3 separate regions of the Homo sapiens genome follow, and all the other regions are linked to region 3. Evidence: fine-mapped expression QTL. A gene starts in region 3. Each other region holds a variant in brackets. All regions are shown on one strand. Distances are from middle to middle. Region 1 has its middle 19 kb from the start of MIR7110. Region 2 overlaps SEC22A (SEC22 homolog A, vesicle trafficking protein). Region 3 holds the start of SEC22A (SEC22 homolog A, vesicle trafficking protein).

Evidence for each region. PIP is the estimated chance that this variant, and not a neighbour inherited with it, causes the effect.
Region 1: its variant is the best candidate, but not a certain one, in a credible set for the expression of SEC22A in monocytes (TOPMed, PIP 0.77).
Region 2: its variant is the best candidate, but not a certain one, in a credible set for the expression of SEC22A in whole blood (INTERVAL, PIP 0.83).

Annotation. Positions count from the first base shown.
Region 1 is chr3:123,179,116-123,181,878 of GRCh38, reverse strand. No RefSeq gene overlaps it. Among named protein-coding and RNA genes, the nearest start is that of MIR7110, 19 kb to the right of the region's middle. The variant C/T (reference allele first, on the strand shown) is at 1,446.
Region 2 is chr3:123,273,894-123,276,656 of GRCh38, reverse strand. SEC22A (SEC22 homolog A, vesicle trafficking protein) reads right to left here. Exons shown (of 7, transcript NM_012430.5): 7 at 2,521-2,763. Among named protein-coding and RNA genes, the nearest start is that of SEC22A, 73 kb to the right of the region's middle. The variant A/G (reference allele first, on the strand shown) is at 1,079.
Region 3 is chr3:123,200,815-123,203,577 of GRCh38, reverse strand. It overlaps SEC22A (SEC22 homolog A, vesicle trafficking protein), which reads right to left and starts at 1,635. Exons shown (of 7, transcript NM_012430.5): 1 at 1,592-1,635. RefSeq lists enhancers at 1,549-1,598, 1,839-1,918, 1,929-2,078.

The DNA.
Region 1 (2,763 bases), 22 kb after region 3:
CATTTCAAGAGTTCCTGAATTCATAGCAAATTATCATGACCAGTCCATTAAAACCCCTCTCTTTCTTTATATCATTTTTAAGCCCAATGCCATTCGCATTACTTGAAATGCATCAGTACACACAATGACATCACATATTCTTAAGGACATTCGTATCCTTACTTACAGACACATCTCACACACTGGTGAGGGAGATGCACATGGGGACAAAAGGGAATCTGTAAATTAAAAAAAAAAAAAAAAGCCAAGAGAGGGGCTACCTGTCCTGGCAGTGCTAATCGTGTCCCCAGGTTGGAAGGATGATGAGAGCAGCTCTCTGGAGAGGTGGTCCATGGACGTGAGAGCCAGGCAAAAATGATGGGCAGAAACCACGGAGGGTCTATCCAGACCTACAAGCAACACCATGAGGCCACAGGGAATTTGCTGGACATGGAGCAATCTTTCCAGGCCTGTCTGCCCTTCTGTCCACTTTGAGTGTCCAGTGTTAACACGTTCAGATCCTGGTACCTGGGTAGCTTCACATGGAGTCACCTGGCAATTCCTTAGGTTCCTAGAAATATAAACAGCCAGAGTCTGACTGAATTTTGTCACTGATTTATTTCAGGATTGATAAAAAAAAGTAAATTGTTCTCCCTAGAGTGGTGTTCTCCTAATACATTCCATCAGGAAAACGTTCTCTTTTTCTGTGGCCAACCACTATGAAGGTTGTAGATTTTACAGAAGAACCAGAACTGAGGGCCACATCCTGGACAGTCCTGGCCACGAGCTTAAGTGATGGGGCTTGTCTGTGGATTGTCTTTGTTAGAAAGATGGATGCAACTGTAGTGCTGGTCACCAATGCTGGTGACACACGGCCTCTAGAAGCGGGCTAATCCAGTGGGAATCCGGCCAGACCTGCCAGAAGGCATTTTATTTTATTTTTAGCCAATCTCCTCCACCTTCCAGGTAGTCATCCACCCATGTATCTCATATATATGTTGTTAAATACGCCTGTATCTTTATGAAATATGTGTTGTGTTATGGTATGTGTGTAATCATTTCTTTCCCATGGGTAGTAAATGACATTGCACAAAGTCTGATACAAAAGTCTGGACTAATTTTTAGAATGTTAAATAGACTGCTTCTTCCACAGGACTTTAAGGTAATGTGCTGATGAATAGACTATGCAACTTTATTGCGTTTATATGGTTTTCAATGCCCTTTGAAATGTGATTAATTCTTTTAAGGATCATGGACCCTTATGACACTTAGCTCATAAATAATTAAATCCAATTAATACTCCAGACTGAACTAAACCTAATTTATTTCAAGTTCCAGTTCCAGCAGAGGAGGCCTTGGTTCACTACTTCTGAAATAATATCACTACCTCACTCTATCTTCCCTTCAATTCATTTGAGTACTAAAACATAGGTGACAAAAAGGGGAAGTTATGCATGTAGAGTTTA[C/T]GTTAAAATATAGTATTTTATTAATTTGAAAAATGTTAAAATTCAGAAAAGTAGAGAGAATAGTAGAACAAACTGCATGCCTCCACATTTTTTCTTTAAAAAATAATTTATGAAGTATGAAATAATACATGAAAAGCCATTAAAATAATATAAAGAACATCACTATGCCCAGCCCTCAGATTAAAATCTTACAAATACGGTTGAAGGCACTTCCCTGACTCCATTCCCCTCCATTCTTTCACTGCCCAAATCACCGCTATTCTCAATTTTGTGTTTATTATTCCCATGCAACTCTTTTAGCTTTTACTACTCATAGAGGCATCCAAAACAATAGTATTGTTTTGTAGATTTTAAGCTTTGTATAAATGAGATCATACTCCCAATATCTTTCAACTTTTTAATTTTCAGTGATTTTTTTCTTGTTAATAACTATGGCTCTAATTCATTCCAACTCCACTGCCACCTGTTTTTAATTGCATGATTAAAATTTATTTTTGTGATGACCAACGACGTTGATTCGAACATTCTCAAACACATCCTCTTTTGTACATATGAAGGAATTTCTCTAGAATATGTGACCATGTGTTTATAGACAGCAAATCTAAGTTTAAAAAGAGCAAAAACTCAGCCTAATTTTTCCTTAATTATGTAGAGCTCTGTAAAATGGTAGAATATATGAGGCTTCTAATAAGACAGACCTGATAGTGATAAACCTCATATTCCATTGAGGTCCATTACTTTATACCTCTCAAATATAGTTTTTGAACCCAAGGTAATTTTATTAAGTTGGAAAAAAGTCTAAATTCAATCATTTATTTTGGTGTGAATTTTAAAAAGAAGAAAGAAAGTGAAAGAAACAAATATACATAGCAGCAAAATGGAAAGAAATGTTCTACCTACTGGCCTCCGCAGAGCTCAGAGAAAGGCCTCCCTCTGGCCTCCCCTAAGCATAGAGAAAAAAAAAAATAATCAGAATTAGGAATTCAAAATGCCCGGAAAGCCAAAAGAATGCTTCTTTCAACACTTTCTGCAAAAGCCGTATGAACTGGGGAGGCATCTTCTCCCACCTCCTCACTTACGACAACCTACCAACCTGCAGAGAGAGTGCCTTGCAACCGTGATGTGGGCTGAGAGTGGTGGTTCATAACCTTTTTTGCACTATGGATGCCCTATGACGACTACCACTAGCACTAATACCTCTACCATTCCTACTCCTATTGCTGACCTGCATTTATTGAGAGTTTGCCATATGCCATGTTAAGCAAACTCCACTTTAATGCTCAGAACAACCGAGTATGAAGAAATCATCATGCTGTTC
Region 2 (2,763 bases), 73 kb before region 3:
CTAAAACCCCCAATTGTGCTGAGACGACTGATTACACATCAGCATTGCCAACGCAGAAGAAACCTGAATGCCCACGCATCAACACCACTCACTGTTAACAAGCAGGAGCATATGCGCCACGTGGCTTCCAACCACACAGTGTTTCCACGTTTCTTTTGATTTCATCTACTAAATAACCTAGAAAACTCAGCCACTCAAGAAAGAGACAAGAGTGGCAGCCAGTTTTTCTCTTTGAAAAACTCGATGCTTAAACAGGAGGCCGCAATCTGCCAGCATTCAACAGCAGCCCCAGAACATTAATGATCACACACCTCCAACCTTACCGGTAATGCTCAGAGTGACATTCTCGGCTCACTCAGCCCTTTTACACAAACTCAGTCACAACCCTTGGAGCTGGGTTTCTTTTGTTAACTTTTAGCGAGGTTATTACTAAAGCCAATTTAACCCTAAAATCAGACCTTACTTTACCACAGCATTTTTAGGGAGAAAGACTTTGGTTCCTTAGAGATAAGGCAGAAAAATACTATAAAGCATTGAACACAGACAAAGAATGTGGCCCTAAAGAGTGACCTATAACTTGTGGTTAAGGCTAAGTGTTCAATGAGGTTTTGAGTGGTGGCTGCTCTTGAACGTATGTGTTCTTTTACCACACACTCCACAGAAGTTCTAACTCTTACAGTGAGCCAAAAGTCTGTTAAAATAGTAACAAGGAAGGTGTACACACACACACAACCTTTGTTGAGTTCCTTGGAAACCCAACAGCTCAGAGTATGACCTTAGGTCACTTAGTAAACCTTTTGAAATGAAGGCCAAGCAATTGCCTTTTAGGGGAGCAGCTGACCTCAGAAGCCACGGAGGTTAGGTCCTTTATGACAAACTTCTGGTCTCTGTGGAGCCCTGATGAAGTAGGAGTCTAATGGGGTTCCACACGTGGCCTAACAGAAATGGAGCTGTCCATCTCTCCACACTAGATTCCACTGTGGAGACATTTACTGCAATATAAATGTGCCAATCCAAGGATAGCACACTCACTTTCAATCTTATAATTCTGTAATACAGAATTGGGTAAAGGTTCTCC[A/G]TGTCTTAAGGCATTTGTCTCAAATGATTTTCAAGCTTAATACTTGTTTTCAGCTTAGGATTCTTACCTATGAAAACAAAATCCTTTATTAACCACACCTACACAAATCCCCCCAAATCCTGAAATGGAAGCCTTTGAAAGCTGGTACAAGGTAAGGATCCAAGGCACAATCATAACATGTAAATGTGTGAAAATCGAGAATTCTGTTCATTTTAGCACTTCACAGGACCCCCAGTGAGAACACCTTTACTAGAAGGCATCAGGAAAGGCTCTCCCCTAAGGAACTGGTATGCTTTTCACCTACTGATAGGGCAGTGCATAACTTCTTTCCCTACCCTTAGCCTTGATTTCCAGAAAGTTCCAGAGTCAAATTTTACATACAATAATGTATGTAAACCCTCCCTTCAATTTTCATTTGTTTTTCTTCCCTTTCTGTTCATATTTCATTAACATGGCTGTATATGTCTTTTCTTGGTATGCTGCTTCAAGTGCTTTTGGGAAAGAGGCCAGGTATTAATGTAAATATATTTCAAATACAGACTGAAAAAAGCAAGCAAATATTGCAATTATCTTAGTATATAAAAGAGGGTATCTTCGCTCTCATGGTACACCTTAATCAAAAAGCAGTATTTAGGAATTATCTAAATTAAAATAAAATACACCTATTAGGATAAAATACTCCAGCAGCAGGCCTGGACTCACCAATTTCAGAACCCCTCAACTCCTTGGCTTTACCAAGAACAGTCATATTCCCTGAATATAACACTGGTCACCTTCACTAGTTCCATGCTAGTGCGAAGAGCCCTGCACTAGATCAGGGTTGTGTGTGCTTAGCTATGTGAACTGGCTAAGTCATTACCATCTGATCACCTCTGTGTCCTCCCCCTTAGAGTGAGGGCAGCTACTACTGCTCCTATGCTACAAAACTATGAGGAGGTAAACTCAGGCTTGCTCTTAGAAGTGCAATAGAAACAGAAGATCATACACCATGGAGGCCTAAAGTGATTCTTTCTAAAGAGCCTAAGGACTTTTTTTTTTTTTTGAGACAGAGTCTCACTCCGTCACCCAGGCTGGAGTGCAGTGGTGTGATCTCGGCTCACTGCAACCTCCGCCTCCTGGATTCAAGCGATTCTCCTGCCTCAGCCTCCCAAGCAGCTGGTACTATAGGCGCCTGCCACCACGCCCAGCTTATTTTTTTTGGTATTTTTAGTAGAGACGGGGTTTCACTATGTTGACCAGGCTGGTCTCAAACTCCTGACCTCGTGATCCACCCACCTTGAGCTCCCAAAGTGCTGGGATTACAGGCATGAGCCACCGTGCCCGGCCAGGACTTTACACCAATTTCTTTTTCTAAATTCAAAGTTCTTTTTTTGGCAGCAATGATACAGGTGGGGAAATGATATAAACACGGAGATACAGGCACCAAATAATGAAAGAAAACATTTCTATACATAAAACATTTATACCTGTTTTCATTTTTTTACATTAAGATGTAAACATCCTCTTATCCAAAATAGCCAGTGAAAAAATAAAAACAAAAACAAAGTAAGCCTTTAAAAATAGTTGGTGAGGAGTTTTCAAGTGTTCTTGCTGAATGTATCCGAATACCAAACATTGTAACTCGTCAATTCAATGACAAGGAGGTAGCTCCTGAACCAAACTGGTGCGAGCTGTGTCAATACAGA
Region 3 (2,763 bases):
AATTTGGACAAGCTTTGCCTTTCTATATCTCAATTTCCACATCTATATATTGTGGCTACTAATAGCATCTATCTCATAGGCTTGTTTTAAAGATGACAATAGTATCTATCTCATAGGATCATGTAAAGTGCCTGAAACATTGCCTTGTAACATGCTAAAAGCACTACATTAAATATTTGCTGTATTATTTATTGATTACTCTCCATGGACCACGCACTTTATACACATTACCTCATTTAAGCGTTCCAAAAACCTGTGAGATAGGTATTATTAGTTCCATTTTACCTTTGAGGAAATTCAAGCCCAGAAAGCTTGAGGAATTTTTTTTAATCCCTAAACGAGTAGGTGACAAAGTAGGGATTTAAACTCAGGCCCAATTCTAACAACTCTGTGAGACACTCAAGGAAGGTCACAGGCACCCCTGTGATAAGACCTAGGCCTCTTTCATATACCAACATAAGATATACTTCGATTTTAACCAGTTGCACGCAAAAAAAAAAAAAAAAAAAAAAAAAAAAAAAAAAGGCACTAAACAGATGTGATGGTTTTCAACATAGGAAATACCCGAATGTCCCATTACTTTAGGATATGGTCACAGGTGTCAGAGTCAAATACTGAATGAACCTTAATATATCAGAAATTGTAGGTACCGTTTAAGGCATTGCCTGATTCCTTACAATCTTAGCATGTAAGCAAATATCAGTAACATGGAAAGTGATTCAGAGTTTGAAAAGTGGCTGTTCCCCTGACTGAAGATCCCAACATCTCCAGTCTGGTGGCTGATACTTTTGCTCTGGGCTAGGCTTTGCCTTGGCTGAATAGGCATAGGAGGGACTGGTTCTCAAGCTCGCCCCCTGCCCCAGGTGGATGATCCAGGAAACTAAGCAGCAGGGAAAAATTATCTTAAGCTGTCTTCACTGGCAGAGAGATTCAAGCCAGCTGGGGCTTGTCCTTTTCTTTTGGAAGCCTCCTCCACTTGCCGAGCCAATTGCTCAGGTCTCCCTTCTGCCACATCGTTCCCAAAGTGACTCTTGAGACAGGGTCTCAAGAGATTTCCGTGAGCCAACGCGGGCAAATATCTGGGCTCAGGGCTCACTCCATCCCCACAAAACGTAAAGTAAGACACTGGTTCAAGTCCCATTCTGCCTAAAAGAAATAGGAAATGCCACCTCAAGCTCTCATGGGCCACCTACACAGGTAGATCACCGTGTTTCTGACACCTGGGCGCCAGGGAATCCCCACCACCATGCTGACAGCCAAGTGCGACTGTCCCTCCCCTTCAAACACTCCTTTCCTGGCTGCCCAACACCCGAGGCGGCTCAGACGAGGCGCAACCGCCGCCCGCCTGGCCCCAGAGAACCCTCAAGTCGAAGGGGACGGGGTCCCCGCTTGCCCGTCCCTCCAGAGCTCCGCGGCCCCGACTCCCATCCCAAAGGCACGGACTTGGCTCCTGCCCGTGGGGTAGGTCTTCAATCCCGAGGGCGAAGGCCGAGGCTGTGGCGAGAGGCAGGGAGCGGGAGGGGAGAGGCCGGCAGGGATTCGAACGACCCCTAAGAAAGGAAGAAGAGGACTGGGAGGGGCCGGGGAGTACCTGTCGAGACGGGACCCGCCGCTCCGAGTGACGCGCCCCGAAGTGCATTGTGGGGCCTGGGAGGGACCTTTCGGCGACGCTGCGGCGCGTCCAACGTGGCTCGCGCCCGCGGAATCAAACCACGCCCCCGTTCCCTCAGCTCACCCAGGCCAATCGGGTTCTGCAGGAAGGACACAACAACCCCCCAGCTCCCGGGGCCCTCCTTAGTCCCACCCGCTCCAGGAGAGATTGGCAGCTTCTCTCGCACCTGCGCCAGAAAAGTACAGCATCCTCTGATGACAGAACTACGTTGACTTCAGAAATAGGGCCAATCTCTTCCGCTCGCCGCCCTGTTTCTGCAGGCATTTTGTCTCTCACACGCGGCCCTACAGCAGACACTTATAAAGGGGACAGGGAGAAAAGCCCCCTCTGGGTGAGCAAGGAGAAGACCTGGCCCCGTCTATTCCCACACACAAGAAGGAAACTAACCATGGCAGAGAAGTGCCAGATGCTGACCCTGCGACCCCTTCCAGCCTTCGCATCGGTCATGCATTATTAAACAGGCATTTCCTGACTGTTTACCATGTGCCAAGCACCGTGTTAAGCACGGGGTTACAGGAGTGGACATAACACTTGATGGAATTTAAGGAGTAATTGGAGCAAGAGATATTAAAGCATAAATAGTTACAGAACTACAAATTGTCAGTATTGGGAGGGAAAATTAGTGGGTGCAATGATCAATTAATTTTGGACTATCAGGGAAAAGACTTCTGAATAAGTGCCTTTTAAGCGGCAGGCATATTGAAGAGCCTTAGAGAATGTTCCCCGCCAAGGAAATATTGTGTGAGGTTGTCGGGGCATGAAAGAACTTCTTGTGCTCTAGGAACTAAAAGGGAGTCAGTGTGGATGGAGTGTAGGGAGCAAGGAGAAACTTTGCCCGTTGACCTTAAGATATCTTCCAAAATACAGCCTGAAATCTGTAATGTGGCCAATAAGAGTCAGCATGGTCTGGCCCTTGTCTCATCTCAGCCCAAGGTCAATGGGCAGCTAATAAAGACTATTAAGTAGGATCCTATTTGCATATTTAAGAATCACTCAGGCTGTTTGTGGAGAATAGTGTGGAAAAGGGCAAGAAGGGCTGCTGGAAAGCCATTTGGAGGCAGTTGCGTCAGGCAAAGCCAGAAATGATGGGG